Regions from separate parts of the Homo sapiens genome. Here region 1 is linked to region 2. Evidence: fine-mapped QTL for protein levels in blood plasma. A gene starts in region 2. The other region holds a variant in brackets. All regions are shown on one strand. Distances are between the middles of the regions.

The links. PIP is the posterior inclusion probability: the model's chance that the variant is causal. Sun 2018 read protein levels with aptamers (SomaScan).
Region 1: its variant is fine-mapped to the plasma level of the ESD protein (Sun 2018, PIP 0.95). The variant lies in the coding sequence of ESD. If it changes the protein, the assay may bind it differently, which can mimic a change of level.

Annotation. Positions count from the first base shown.
Region 1 is chr13:46,767,836-46,776,180 of GRCh38, reverse strand. It overlaps ESD (esterase D), which reads left to right. Exons shown (of 10, transcript NM_001984.2): 10 at 4,685-4,925. The coding sequence ends at 4,765. Among named protein-coding and RNA genes, the nearest start is that of ESD, 25 kb to the left of the region's middle. The variant G/A (reference allele first, on the strand shown) is at 4,686.
Region 2 is chr13:46,793,525-46,801,869 of GRCh38, reverse strand. ESD (esterase D) reads left to right here and starts at 4,709. Exons shown (of 10, transcript NM_001984.2): 1 at 4,709-4,765. RefSeq lists enhancers at 4,792-4,841, 4,973-5,574 and a silencer at 5,152-5,201.

The DNA.
Region 1 (8,345 bases), 26 kb after region 2:
CCATCACAATTAAATTTTAGGTCAACAACCAGCCTTGAGAAATCCAAATACCAATTTGACTATAAATATAGTAATACGTTTAACTGCAATAACTATAGCTATAAGTGCGTACCAAACCATGTTTTTTCCAAATGACCTTAATTTCTTGGCACTACCCATGTTGGATACCTCATTTGCTTCCCCAAAGACTGGGCCCAAAATTTCTGTTGTTTCTACAATGATTCTGCCTGCCAACAAAGTCTGAAAATCTCAAGTTTGTTATAAAAACAGCACAGTTAGAACATGATGACATTCCTGGAGGGAAAAATAAGTCCACTTATTTGTTTCTAAAATGCCTGTATCCCAAGCAACTAGAACACATAGTTGGCTATACTTAATGAGGAGTCAAGACAAACCATTCAATTCTTCTAAAAAAGTAAGAAAGTATTCAAAGCACCAGAGTCACAATGTTGAGCTCAGGTGCAATTTTCTATTCACTTTACTTCCAGCATGGTCGGGTTAAGAGTGGACTACATAGCTTGAAGCGGATTTCGTTGAGATTCGTTGTAATTGAATCAACAACTGAATGAGCATGCCTAAGTAGTGGCTCCAGAGAGTCTGCTTTCAGATTTTCTTGCCAGCTTTGACCCAAGATTACCCTGGGTCTGCGAGTTTTATCACCTGCTTTATCATTTGATTACAAGTATAGTATAACTGTATTTCCTTGTGGGATAGAAGCTGTAAAAAATAAGCTGAAAATAATAGGGGATATATATAAATAAACGATCTGAGAAAGAATAAAGAAAATAATTACAATCATGCACATGATTTACTCAACTTCATTCTTTTACCTCTTTTTAATGGTGTTAAATGCTCACAATTTATATTTATACTCTGTCGAATGTCAAAAAAAATTTTTTAGAGAGAGGGGTTAGTGCATCGGGGATATTTATTTGGTTATTATTTTATATAATTTTTTCTTTTTCTATTTTGGCTTCAGGGAATCTAAATTGAAAAAAAAATACTAGGTAGCAGAATTCTGATATCTAGTGTACAGAGATCAAATCTTAGTCTGAAAAAGAAGGGCCTAGTATGTCTTATCTTTAGTTATTGGAGTTACACAGTGAGAAAAAAAAATTTAGTGACCTAATACTGTGAAGAAGTTTCCAGAAATAGTAATCTCTTTTTGTGGAATAGAAGGAGAGGCTATACTACCTCCTTAAGTCTCAGGACCTTTTTGAAGATTGAGAGGCTGTTTTAGCCTCTGCATCTGCCTGCTAGAGAAGAGTAAGAACATGGCAGAGAATCCCAGAAATGTAGAGCTCTCTCATTCATCTCTGTATCCCATGCTTATTTAGCATAGGTATCTAGCACAGAGACTCTCAATACTTGTTAAATGAATACAGTGCAAAGTCTTCCTCCTTATACACTGAAGAGATTTAATAACCTGGGGATTCTTATCCAAGCTTTTCTAATTGGGTCTGGAAAATATATAAGAAAACACTGCCTGTTAGGATAAACATCCATCATAGCTGCTGGAGCACTGCTCCCTTTTTGAGAGCTGAGTGAAGAATGAAAGAATGAAAGGTGTTCATTTATTTTTATACTCCAGGAGTCAAGAGTTTTGCTACCAAGGATTTTCCATTTAAAGTGTGAGGTAGAGGAGAAAAGTCCCCTTCAAGTGTCACTAAACATAGGCATTTGCACAAGCTGCTTAACATATCATACCAACTCATTCATCAAAGAATTTAATTAAAGAAGCCATCCCCATTTAATAAGACTGATAAATAGAAACCCTCGTCAGGGATGATACAATTAGCTCGAATTGTGTAACTTCAGCAGGATACCAATTGTTCAAATGTATTCTATTGCCTTTTTGTTGACATTTTTTAAAATTCTTGGGCCCTCAATGGCAGGCATTTTCTTCTTTCTCATATAGGTGAATCTTTATCATTATGGAACTTATGGTCATTTGTTTTGGATTTTAGATGTCTTGTCTTGCAATATATTCCTGGGTTTACCTTGGGACTTCTCTAATAATAATGATGGCTATTCATATGTGTCTGATGGCTCTTAACACACAAGAAACTAAGGATAAAAATATGGCATACTCAGTCACATTGGAACTTGGTCACACAAGTCTTTTGAGATATCTGTTTCCCTGCATCTGTACCCATTTTCTATCAGATCCATCTTTTGATCTGTGAAAAATGGCAGATAATACTTGGTACATTTTACAGGTTTGGTGGCCTAAAACTCCAGGCCTGTTTAACTTCTTAACAATTCAAGAATTATATGGATGGAAAATGTTTTTCTTTACATTTCTTTCTTTATATAGGAAACTGTAATTTAGCTCTAAATTCAACTAGCCAGCTGGGACTAGTCTAATCATTGAGAGACATGACACCAAGTAATTCCGAGGCTCAGCTTTAATCTTGACAACATTCCTGTCACATTCACTTCCATGATAGAAGACAGATTGCTTTAGAAGACTTAAGTTACCTTGACCTTAAACTAGAACTTTTTATTAACAGCTGTTCCCAAGATAAACATTTAATACCTCTCTGGAAGGGAGAGATTGAGAACATTTACTGATTCATCAAAACCTTGGGGATTTCCTTGTTCTCTGAAGCGTCAGTGATATTTTTATTAGCTCTATTTTTATTTCTTAGGTGCTTAGAAAAATTCCCATCTTTTCCCATCAGTGACCATTCACTAGTTCAAAATGGGAAAAACAAAATCTTTGTTAGACTTTCATTTCTTTCGGTTTATTCAACCTTGTATTTTAATTGTAGATAGGGATAAATTATCTGGTGTTTGATACCCTTAGAAAGTTCTTCCCACCTGGAGTGTAAATTAGTTTAACCATTGTAGAAGATAGTGTGGTGATTCCGCAGACCTAGAGGCAGAAATGCCATTTGACCCAGCAATCCTATTACTAGGTGTATACCCAAAGGAATATAAATCATTCTGTTATAAAGATACAAGCACACATATGTTCACTACAGTACTATTCAATACTATTCAATAGCAAAGACATGGAATCAACCCAAGTACCCATCGGTGATAGACTAAATAAAGAAAATGTGGTACATATGCACCATGGAATACTGTACAGCCATAAAAAGGAATGAGATCATGTCCTTTGCAGGGACATGGATGGAGTTGGAAGCCATTATCCTCAACAAACTAATGCAGGAATAGAAAACCAAACACCAGGCCAGGCGCAGTGGCTCACGCCTGTAATCCCAGCACTTTGGGAGGCTAAGGTGGACGGATCACAAGGTCAGGAGATCGAGACCATCCTGGCTAACATGGCGAAACCCCGTCTCTACTAAAAATACAAAAAATTAGCTGGGCATGGTGGCATGCACCTGTAGTCCCAGCTAGTCGGGAGGCTGAGGCAGGAGAATCGCTTGAACCCGGGATGTGGAGGTTGCAGTGAGCCAAGATCATGCACTCCAGCATGGGTGACAGAGTGAGACTCCGTCTCAAAAAAAAAAAAGACCAAACACCACATGCTCTCACTTATAAGCAGGAGCTGAATGGTGAGAACACATGGATATATGGAGGGGAACAACCCACACTGGGGCCTGCCAAAGGGCGATGGGAGTTGGGGAAAGCATCAGGAAGAACAGCTGATGGATGCTCGGCTTAATACCTAGGTGATGGCTTGATCTGAGCAGCAAACCACCATGGCACACGTTTACTTATGTAACTGCATATCCAGCACATGTACTCCTGAACTTAAAAGTTGAACAACAAAAAAAGAAGGAAAATGCGTTAATACCTTATTGTAATTATTTTTTTTTTGGAAGACTATTTTTTATATTCAGAAGAAGTGTCAGAGTCAGCAGAAAGGGATTATTTCTCCATTTACCTACAACAATGGTTTTAAATGACTGGATAGATAGAAATCTCTTTCAACTTAACTGCTTAGCACATTGCATTTTTCTCTGTTTCATGTTAGTTTTCCAAAGGATTACTGACTTTTTACCTAATTTGCTAAGGGATGTCAGGCCTTAATGACATATTTCCCCTCACATAAAGATACAACATGCTTTTACTGTGTAGGAGGAATTGTTAACAGGATTTATGATGGCTGTGTTTGACTTCCCAACAATGATAGAACATTTGGGCATTTTTATGTTCTTTTTCTATATTGTTTGTGTGCTTATTTTGTGTTTTAATAGTCACTGTCTTACTGATGTGCTGCATTTGTGAATTGAAATGTCTTGCCCATGTTTCTAAGATCTCTAAATCCTGATTCTTTTCATCTTGGTTGATATGACAGTGTCATATCAACTGACACTGTCAATTGATAGTGTCATTTTCAATGACAGTGTCTACTCTGCATATTTAATGCACTCTACAGTGTTGATATGACATGTCTACTCTGCATATTTAATTAATGTGTTACTTCCACTCTTTACATATTAATGGCAGCATTTAGAAGTTAGGCTATGTTTAGAAGCTAGGCAGAATGTTTAGTTTTCCTTCACATTTTTGCTGCTCTTTTAATGTACAGTGAAAATGTTAAAGTACAAGGATGACAACCTTGATTTTATTATAAACCTTCCTCATACTTCCTTAATGTTATGACTATTTGTAAGCAAATTAAACGACCTTAGAGATATATTTAATGTTCCTAATACTGATGTTCCTGAATGGTAGATAAATGTCTTATCATCTCTTTATCTTCTAGG[G/A]TTATGATCATAGCTACTACTTCATTGCAACCTTTATTACTGACCACATCAGACATCATGCTAAATACCTGAATGCATGAAAAAACTCCAAATAAGAGAATCTCTTCAGGATTATAAAAGTTGTAAAATGCAACTGTATTGCTGAGCAAAAAAAAAAAAAATTCAAAACATTGGATTTTATAGTGCTAAAAGGGCTTTATTCTATAGTTGAATCACCTCTGAATAAAGATATAAAACCTACTTCTGATTTTAAAAGTTATTTTACAAGTGTTCACATAGGAAATCTTTAATGCTCTATAGCTTTTTCAGTGTCGTTTGGAAATTCTTGTATTAATCCCAGGTCATAGAATATGAATGTAATCCTATTTGAAGTATAGAGTAGCAACTCTGGAACAGAAGACTTAAAAGTAATTTAGCCCAGACTCCTCACCTTTCCAGACTTTAAGCCTCTGAAGACATTGGACTGTCTTTGTCATGTTCATTGTTGTATCTCTAGTGTCTAGCAAGTGTCTAGAAAGCAAATATCCACTTGATTTCTAGTGGATATTTAATAACTGTTAGCTACAGAATAAAGAGGTAGGCTCAGAAAGGTTAAATGAATTCCCCATCGTTACACAGCTATTTGTGGGATATTAGAAGACAGATTTTCTTTTCTTACCTATTGAGTCTAATATATTTGTGAACATTGGTTTTTGGGTGTATTAAGGTTCTCAAGAATTAAATAAGATTCAATCTGAAAATGGCTAAATAAGGAAACGTATTAGTTTCATATGTTACTGTAAACATGAATATTTTCCCATAGTTGCAAGCAGAGATTTAACTTGGTGAGCTCACCAAGAAAAGTAATATCTCTGTAAATACCCAATTGTTTTCCTTTAAGAACTTTTAATAGACAAACTTTTTGAAATGTGATAAAAGCCAGTAAAACATGATAGAAGCCAGTAAAACCTGGCTGCTTTAAAAATATATTTTTTTCTGTTAAAAAATAAATTTTAAACATTCAGTAGGAATGCATATTATGGTAACTGAAGAAAATGACATTAAGTTCCTAAAGTTATAAAATTAGTATTATTTAAACATCAGTAGTCAAGGTTGAGCCCTTGAATGAGCTGTACACAGAATGGTTCTCATTTAAACAGTCTTGTGTCTTCTAATAAGATCATTCATGAACGTTTTACATGCTGGTAATTTATTTGTGAAGAAAAACAATTGTCCCTAAGATCATTGAGGTTGAGGTTTAAACCAGGGAAGCAAAACTAGTAGGAGATATATACATTAAGATTTTTTTTAAAAAACGAGGAATTGGCATACCTGGATTAAGAAAATGTGGCACATATACACTATGGAATACTATGCAGTCATAAAAAAGGATGAGTTCATGTCCTTTGTAGGGACATGGATGAAGCTGGAAACCGTCATTCTCGGCAAACTATCTCAAGGACAAAAAACCAAACACCGCATGTTCTCACTCACAGGTGGGAATTGAACAATGGGAACACTTGGACACAGGAAGGGGAACATCACACACTGAGGCCTGTTGTGGGGTGGGGGGAGGGGGGAGGGGGGAGGGATAGCATTAGGAGACATACCTAATGCTAAATGACGAGTTAATGGGTGCAGCACACCAACATGGTACATGTATACATATGTAACAAACCTGCGCGTTGTGCACATGTACCCTAGAACTTAAAAGTATAATAAATATATATATATAAAAAAAAAAAAAAAAACAAGGAATTGGCATACCTGATTATGAGGGCTGGCTAAGCAAGTCCAAAATCCATAGAGCAGCAGTCAGGAAGGGACAGGCACAAGCAGGACGGACTCTGGGCATGGGCTCAAGCTGTTGTACACAGGAGGAATTTCTTCTCTCCTGGTGAGGCCTCAGTCTTGCTTTTAAGGCCTTCTGATTAAGTGAGGTCCACTGGATTGTCTCTCCTCTTTAAAGTCAGTTGATTAGGGACTTTATCTGCAAAATTCCTTCATAGCAACACCTAGATTAGTATTTGAATAACAGGGGACTGTAACAAACAGCTAAGTTAGTTAGTGTATCATTGTTAGAAAATAGTTGCTTTGCTTTTTTACACGTAAATGCAAAACATTTAAATATTCATTAAGTAATTGCTGATGAACAGCTAATGTTAGTAAAGACAAAGACCTTTAGTTAAAACAGAAATGACTGTTGAGGATAATAAACCAATACATTTGAGCTTGCTTTTTTGTGCCACAAATGCTGGCCTGGGGAGGGATGAGTCCTTATCAATGCCTAAATGTAACATGAGTTTCCCCAACTAGAAAGAGTTCAATCTTAATGTCTCTCATATTGTAAGGTTCCATCTCAGTGACATAGTTAACAATACATAACCTAAACATTAACTCCCAATGCTTGTTTAGGGTGTTTCTAGAAGTCACCTGACAATCAGGTATAAAAGGAGGTAAAGGAATCTGACATTTCCTGGATTATGTTCAATGTAAGACCCTTGTGAAGATTATGTTCTTGAAGAAACGTAATACTGTAAAGCCACCACCATGAAGAGTAAAAGGACAAGCCACAAAGTAGATGGAGATGCTTGCAACACATATATCTGACAAATAACTTGTATCTAGAATGCCTGAAGAACTCTCACAAATTCTTAAAAACATAAAATTTGGCAAAAAATTTGTACTTAACAAAATAGGACAAATATGGCTAATGAATGCCTGAAAATGTGCTTAGTAAGACTGGGGAAATACGAATAAAAACTACAATGCAATGAACCTACACACCCACCTGAATGGCTAAAGTTCAGACAATGGAAAATCCCAGGTGTTGACAAGGAAACATGGCGACCTGAATTATACTGCTAATAAGGTGCAATCTGGCAGGATCTGCTAAGGTCTAGTTCAACCTTAGCAAACTGGTAAGGTCTGATGAGGCCTCAGACCTTACTTAGCACGTCTCCTATAGCCTTTCAATGCATGTTTCTGTACTTAACAGGAACATTATGGCTACATGAGAATGTTTACAGCAGCACCATTTACAATGGCCAAAATCTAGAAATAACCTGAATCCATCTATAACAGAATTAGTAAAATTGGAGCATATTCATACAATGAAATATTCTACATGAATAAAAATAAACACACTATAACTGGATGCAGCAACATGGATGGGGTCTCAATCATAATCTGGAAGAAAGAATCCTGACACCAAATTATGTGCTATATAATAACTTGGTACCATTTTATATGCATAGTATTGAAGACAGGAGGTGTTACACATAGCAAGGCAATGGAAGGGGGTGGTGGGGGGCATTCTGAGGGAGAGGTGATTGGAGCATGGCAGGAGAGAGTACTGGTGATGCTATCTTCATCCAGGTGCTTGGTACATGAGCATGTTCACTGAAAATTCATCAGGCCATACACTTAGGATTTATAAACTTTTTAATATGTGTTATACTTTAATAAGGTTTACATTAAAAGTATATTAAGTAGTTATGCTGTGAAGATCATAAATATACTACTGCATGAAGAATTTAAAAATCCTGATGTTATTGCAAAGAATACTTATCTTGGGGGATACAATTTCCAGTGGCTACATCGTTTATCAATTCAAGTAATATTGTATCTCAAACCACTTAGAAGTGAAGGTGATGTGAAAAGTTGCTGCAAAAAGTGGCT
Region 2 (8,345 bases):
TGGTGAGAAGTGTGTTGTGGGATAGGCAAAAGGAACAGCATGTGCAAAATCATGATGGTATAAGAGCATGGGGTGTTTAGATTATAATTAGGAGGGAAGTAGCTTGATACAGCTTCAGCATAGGATGGAATTATGAGGGAGCTGTAGCTCATGAACCTGGAGGGATAACTTGGTAATAATGTCATCTTCATTCATAGTGCCTGGCACATAGCAAGTGTTTCTTAACAGTAATATTTTGAGCATGTGTGTGTACAGATGCAGCCATGGGCTGCATTACAATGTTTTGGTCAATAACTTATTATATACACTACAGTGGTCCCATAAGATTGTAATACTGCATGTTTACTCTACCTTTTCTGTATTTAGCTGTGTTTAGATACACAAACACCATTGTGTAACAGTTGCCAAGAGTATTTAGTACAGTAACATGCTGTACAGGTTTATAGCCTAGGAGCAACAGACTATACCATGTAGCCTAGGTGGGTAGAAGGCTATACCATCTAGGTTTGTGTAAGTATACCCTGTGATATTCCCATAGTGACAGAATCAGCTATCAATGCATTTCTCAGAACACATCCCTGTCATAAAGCAACTCATGACTGTAGATAGATAGATAGATAGATAGATAGATAGATAGATAGATAGATAGATCCATTTATCTGTCTATTGAGAGAGAGAGCTGGAGGGAGGACATGGGAAAAAGAAAATGGAATTTCTAAATTGTTTTCATATAGGGAGGCAAACAGAAAGGGAAATTTGGGGTGACTTGTGGATATAATGGTCCTTGCAATAAGGCCAAGATGGCATATCTGCGGGGATTTCTACCTAACAGCTGATTCTTCATAACCAAGGAAGCTGTCCTAGTTCTCAGCCTAAAAAGATAATGATATAATATCTAGAGCTACTGACTTTTGGAGGATACATAAAACCCCAATTTTCTTCTAAATTCTTAGTTTCCTTTAGCAAAATCCCAGCCATGGTTATAATGGTAATCTCAGAATTTTTTAGTTGCCTCATTGTCTATGAAATAGTTTATTTTACTTCACTCTCCATGTTTACAAATAATTATAGAAGCATGTTTAAGCTATGCTGGGGAATGTGTAAGTGACTAGGAGGCATTTTAGAAATGACCTAAAGAAATAGTTGGCATTATTGAGAAAAGGATCATGAAAGCATAGGTAGTCTCACTAGCAAAATACTAATCTTACACCAAAGGAGATTTATAAGCATTAACCAAAACAGTTAGTGAACTGGCCTTTTGTCAGTTTTCATACATGCCAATGATTAACAGATAGCCAGAGTTCATTTTGTTTCTAATAAGCTATCAATGGAACTTTAAAAATTATGAATAAACTGACAAACTGTGGCTCAACAAATATGTAGAATGTTAAGAAACTTAACAGTACTGTAATTGAGCAAAAGGTGATAAAAGAATAGGAGTCACTTTGAACAGGAAAAAATCTATAGTTTTAGTTCTCATGCTAACAAAAATAACAATAATGGCTAACACAAAAGTCTAGCTCTGTACAATCACACACTAACTCTTGATTTTTTTGAATGTGTGATGAAAAAGAAATATAGCTTTTAGGATTTAAGAATTAAAAAAAAAAAGTAAATGGAATTGAGGCCAGATGCAGCTGGGTGCAACGGCTCATGCCTATAATCCCAGCACTTTGGGAGGCTGAAGTGGGAGGATCACTTGAGCTCAAGAGTTCAAGACCAGCCTGGGCAACATAGCAAGATCCCATTTCTACTAAAAATACAAAAATTAGCTGGGCATGCTAGCACACGCCTGTAGTGCCAGCTACTCAGGAGGCTGAGGCAGTAGGATCACTTGAGCCCAGGAGTTTGAGGTTGTAATGAACTATGATTGCGCCATTGCACTCCAGCCTGGGTGACAGAGTAAGACCCTATCTTAAATAAATAAATAAATAAAATTGAAATATGTGAAATTTGGACATTTGCTAATATGAATGTGAGACTGAAAGGCTTGTCTGTACTTGTTGTATTGTACTCTGCAGTTAGAACTTAAGATAACAAAGTCAAGATGGAACAGTGGCACAGGGCTATAAGTTTCCGGTACTTGGTTCAGTTCCCATGATCCAAAGTCTGGTCCTCAGAGTACACATTCAGAAACTCAATTCTGTAAGGTGAGTATCATGCTCAGAGATGGTAAGTCTTTGGGAAAATGTATCATCTCAGCTACACTCACCAGAGACTAAAGCATTTTTAACCTAAGTTCTGATTTATTAAATAACAATGGAGCCTATTATTTTCCAAAATGTCACTAGATAAGAATAGAATCAAAATAAAGGGAATTTTGAAAAATGTTTATCTAGGCCAGTGGTTCTTAACTAGGGGCAATTTTGCAGCCCTCCTCTACACCAACCCCTCCTTCCATGGACATTTGGCAATGTCTAGAGACGTTTTGGGTATCTAAGCTTGTTAGGGGTACCACTGGCATCTAGCTAGTGGAGGCCAGGGATGTTACGAAACATCCTACAATGCACAGGGTAGGCCTCCACGACAAAGAATCATCTGGCCCCAAATGTCAACAGTGCCGAGGTTGAGAAACCCTGTTCTAGTCTGTGGAAAAGCCACAAGGACACTTCTCAAGTAGCATATTTGATACCCAAGAGATTATATTATTTTCTATGTATGGTGTCTTTTCTAGTCTCTCTAAAACTATCTTTGCTATGGATTGAATGTTTGTGTTCCCCAGAATTCAAACATTGAACCCTAAATCCTTAACGTGATGGTATTTGGAGATGGAGACTTTGGAAGATAATTACACCATGATGGTGGAGTCCATGTGAATGGGACTAGTGCCCTTACAATAAGATGAAGGAACCAGAGCTCTCCTCACCCCACCCACCAAGTGAGACTACAGCAAGAAGGTATTCCTCTGCAAACGAGGAAAAGGGCTCTCAGCAGGAACAGATTTCATCAGCACCTTGATCTTGGACTTCCCAGACTTTTAGAATGGTGAGGAATAAATTTCTGTTAAGCTGGAACTGACTAAAACAATCTCTTTTCTTACAGGCTTCAAGTATATTTGACTTTTTCTCATTTTTATTGCATCCCTTTATTGCCTCCTTAAGATTATATTCCTACTCATTTTAGTTCAAACCAAGAGTCCTATATCCTCTCAGCCACACATTTACACATAATTTTTGGACTATTTCTTTGTGTACTTAATATTCATCCATTTTTATTGGTAGTGCCATTTTTTAAAATGTCAACCTTAATTTCTGATTTCAGCCTTCTTTGCTTCCATGTCCAAATAATAATGATAATTATATATATTCTTAATATTTTTAAGCAATCGACTTTTGTGGATCTATTAACATTTTATTTATGCTGGGTAAAAGAAATTTTAGTTCTGCTTATTCTCACATTGTATTCACACAAGAACCCTTTAGTAAAGAACTTCACACTTACAGTTCTTTGGCTAGTCTGCACCTCACAGCAGTCCACTTATTAGGCAAATATATCATTTAATCAATTATTTCTCTTTGTTCAAACATCAGTTATAAAGAACTTGCAATTTAGGTATTTATTCTGTTTCAGTTTTGAAACTGAAGAAAATCCCCTTTTCAATGATTTATACTTAAAGATAGTAAAAAGAAAGTTTAAAACAATTTACTTCAATGCTTTCTCAAAATAAAAACATTATTTTGATGAAACATTATTTTCAGTCTAAGTTCCAATTGATCCACAGGTTCAGTCCACAGGTTAATTTAGTCCAAAGATCACTATGGCAAAATGGGCCTGAGCCACACAATAGATTCTGGCAGGTAATCTCTTGTGTGGCAGCTCATCCATACTTAAGTCAGCTCCCATAGCTACACAATTTGCAGGGCCCAATTCCAGACACAAACGTGGGGCCCTGGTTCAACACTTACTGAGAGAAAATGTAGCGTCCTTCTGTTCTGGGGGCCGGGTAATAGCACAGGTTGCAGGCCCATGAGGCCAGCCCCAACTATCAGATTGTGTATTTACAATGTCAGTCTAACCGTTGCTGAAAAATACTTAGCTCTGTTGTAATCAGATTTAATTTCTCAAGAGGCAAAGTACACTCAACAGTTTGCTTAAATCAGAGAGACCAAAAGGAAAGATTTGCTGTAAATTATCAACTAGCAAATCTTAGTCAGTTCAACTTAATTTTTATTGAGGGAAGAAGGGAGAAAACAGAAAACTGATGGAGTTCCCACTGCGTGTCGGCCACTGGAGATTTCAAAGGTTTCTTGTTTAACTCAAGCTACCAAGTAGGTGACGTGGATAGTCTTGGGACAGAGGAGTTGAGGGAGTTGAAATTAGGCCCTAGTTTCTACATAAGTGACACGGAAACCCTCTGCACGAGTTAAGCGAAGCTACATCTCAAGTTTATTAATGCCTCGGGTTCTTGCTGCTGGCTCTGGGAAGAGTCTGAGCACGCACAGCAGACTGATCCCCGACAAGGTGACAGGGACTAACCTAACGCCCTCCTCGTTGGTCCTAGTAACCACACAGAGCAGAAACGCGGGCGAAGGCAGGAGTTGGAGGGGGCGCCCACGCGGAGGCTGCCGGGAAGTGCAATGTGCAAAGGCGGCGGGGCCATGGAGACTGAACTGGAGAAGAGCGGGTTCTCGGAGTTAAAAGCGAGAGTGAGTGGGACCGGAGGGGCGGGGCATCATATGGGCGGGGCTGAGGCGAGGCCCCGGCGGCCATCTTGAGCCCCGCCTTTTACTTCGGCCCGCTTCTTCTGGTCACTCCGCCACCGTAGGTAAGACTGGGTTCGGGTAGAGGCCTGGACGTTGTCAGCCTTCCTGCGGCTGCGGCACGGCTAGGCGTGATCGGGGCGGACGCCGAGTCCTGCGGTGCAGGTATCCGCAGGCACGAGCGCAGAGACGGCGACCCTGGGCCTTGGGCGCCACCATCCATGACAGGAGGCCAAGGACCTTTTCCCGTGACCCGGAGCCTCGCCTCTAATCCCTTTTCCTTCTCTGAGCCTCCAACCTAGTGTAACCCGGGGCGAGCGCCCGTTTACCTACTGCCCGCTACATTTGTACAGCTTTTTCCTGTTCAGAAAGACTTTCCTAGACCCGCAGCCACCGCGCGAAAATGTGAAGTAGATGTGTACGCATTTTAAGGAGGGAGCTGGCCTCAACGCGTTACTAGCGGCCGCCGGCGCCTGGTTCGGGGGAGTGTGGACCTGCTGCTCTAGGCAGCGTCCGCGTCGGGGCACGAGCCAATGGCGCGGTCAGGAGCACTCACCTGATGGTGCCGAGGGGAGCACGTGTCTTTGGAGTTTGACAAAATCTGTTCGGGTCGTAAAATGCTCTCAGAGCGCTGTGGGGGACTGGAAGTCATTTCTGATGGGGTCATTAGGGAAATGGGATTGAGCGCACCTGGAAGGAGAGGGCATTCAGGTTGCAGGAAAAATAATAGCTCATGTTTGTGTGTGTGGTAGAAGCAGCATTTTAAGCACTACGTGAATTAACTCATTTAATTCCCAGAGCAACCCTATCAAATTGATATATATTACTGTATACCCATTTTGCAGATGGGCAAATGAGGCATAGATTAGCTTGCCCAGTGTCATGTAGTAATAAGTGGTGAAGTCAGGGTTTGAACCCGGAGGGTCTGGCCCCAAAACCTGCTCTGAAACCATTGTACCGTGGCATTGAGTAAAGCCACCCGATAGCAACATCCAGGCCATCCTAGAATTATGCATAGTTGAGTTTAACTAACAAAATAGGGAGTGAGACCAGAAAAATAATCTGGGACCAAATTATAGACCATATTTAGAGCCATGTGAAGGTGTTTGGCGTTTATAGATGCTATATTTTTTTTAAAAAATTTTCCCCAGAGTTTAATAGAAATCCTTACCTAGGCAAGCCATGTGAATTTTTATGAAGGAAAAGAGACCCAGCCTAGGCAGCATGGCAAAACCTCCTCTACAAAAAATTACCTGGGCATGGTGGTGCCACCTGTGGTCCCAACTACTCCAGAGGCTGAGGCGGGAGGATCACCTGAGCCCGGGGGCCGAGATGATTGCAGTGAGCCGAGATCAGGCCACTGCACTCCAATCTGGGCCACAGAGTTTGACCCTGTCTCAAAAAAAAAAAAAAGAAGAAAAAAAAGACTGTGTTTGCACACAGGTAGAGTGTGACTGAAGTTTATATGGAGTTTTATTCATCTATTTTTTCAGTGATCCTGCATGGTTTTAATTTTATGAAATTTTAATGGCATTAAACTTGAAGAAAATTGTACAATTAACATGGTCTTCCATTTCAGTGACTTTCTGGTTCTCAGCGACTGGCCTAACAGCGAAAGGGATTAGTAGTCTCCACCTGCAGCAGCCAGGGGGTGATGAGGCAGTTCTCATCTGCTCATTATTGTGAGCTGGCGAACTGCGTTTTTACATATGACTAATGGATACTTAACACTACTGAAATACACACTTAGGAATGGTTAAGATAGTAAATATTATGTATGTGTTTTTATCACAGTTTTTAAAATACTAAATAAAAATGACTAACAATTCCACGTAGGCCGTATTAGGCTGCAGATGAGCTGTTGGTAGGGATCCGTTGACCAGTAAATTAAGTGGATTAAAACCCTAGGCTTTCATGCAGGATTGATCGTAGTGGGATGTATTAGGAAGAAAGGAAGAGGCTAAGTTTTAATTTCTTATATATAATTAGGATGATGGCAGTGGGAATTCAAAAAGAAGGTAACTTTGAGGCATCTCAAATGTAGATTAGGCAAGACAGGCATGAGTCTGAAAAAGAGAGGCAATGAAAAGAGGAATGGTTTGAAGGTGAGATGCAGAAGCTTAATTTTAGGTGTGGTAAGTTTTAATAGCTGGTGACATGTCTTGGTAGAAGAGTCCAGCAAGAAATGTCATTATGGGTACTAATGCTTGAGAAAGATTGGTTATAGAGATGCAGATTTAGATTATTTCACCCAGAAAATGTAGTTGAAATTTAGGGAATGAGGTTTAGGGAAAGAGTGTGAAGAAAAAAGAAAAGGGAGGTGGGAGGAGACAGAGTGAAAGGGAAGAAGCCAGATCCTGAGTTTTCACTGAGAAGAGGATTTGAACAACACAGTGGTGGTCAACAGCAGTTATTGGAACTGTAGATTGTTGGTTTTGGGAACACCTGTCTAGGTTGTTAAGAGCCAGTGGAATAGGACATCCTGGAAATGAAGAAACATCAAAATCCAAGGAATCTGAGAGAATGGGAACAAAAAAACACATGTAGAGATTTATGGAAAACTTGAGACACAGGGGAAGAAGGATAAAAATAGAACTCAGATTTCTGGAGGTGGATGACATTTAACTTTAATAAGTAAAGGGCCCTGTCTCTACAAAAAATTAAAAAAAAAAATATTCCAGTGTGGTACGCACCTGTAGTCCTAGCTGCTCAGGAGGCTGAGGTAGGAGAACACTTGAAGCTTGGAGTTCTAGGTTACACTGAGTCATGATTATGCAACTGTACTACAACCTGGGCCACACAGCCAAGACCCCATCTCCAAAAAATAAAAAATAAAGGGAAGAACAGTAAGGTTTGACCTTTAGGGGAATGGATGTATTATGCACTGAGAGACCCTTTCTTCTCCAAAGAATGTTGATGTTCACTAACATTTGGGAAAAATTGTGTAACTCCCACTGGCACTGTGAAATTGTTTTTCTGTTTTTGTTGTTGTTGTTGTTGTTGTTGTTTTTTGGAGGGGAAGGAGGAAGGGTGTTGTTTGGTTTTTTGGTATTCCACCCTACTCTGTCACCCTATTTCTCCCACAAAATCTGTTCTAGAACCTAAATATATATTTGTTCTAGAGCCTAAATGAAATCTACCAGATAAGTGACATGATATATACTATGTAAGTTTCCATATATATTTTTCTTACTGAATATCAGTCACTTCATCGTTCATAAGCCCACTTTTCTTATACATCCTTTCTAGTCACCCTAGTAGTAGTCCTTCAGTCCTCATCTCTTCCCTTCTTTCTCCCCATGTTACAAGTTCGACTTACAACTGAGCCAGATAGATCCATCTTCCTCTACTTACCTAGTCCCCACTCTTATTTTCTTCACTCAGGAGTTGACTACATCTCATGCTTCGAAATTACACTTGAAAACTTTGTTTATTGATTTAAAAAGATAAAAAACTTTCATAGTACTTTTACTTCAGCAGATGGTTTTGACCAAGTACCAACAAGCTTTATGGCAAAATAGGTATTAAGGTGGCCTGTGGCAAATAATTAGATTATGGGCAATTAAGGTAATTAAGTGGTGATGTGGTATCCCATCAGGGTGTACAGTCATTTACCTCAAAAGAAGAAAACATCTCTATTGAGAA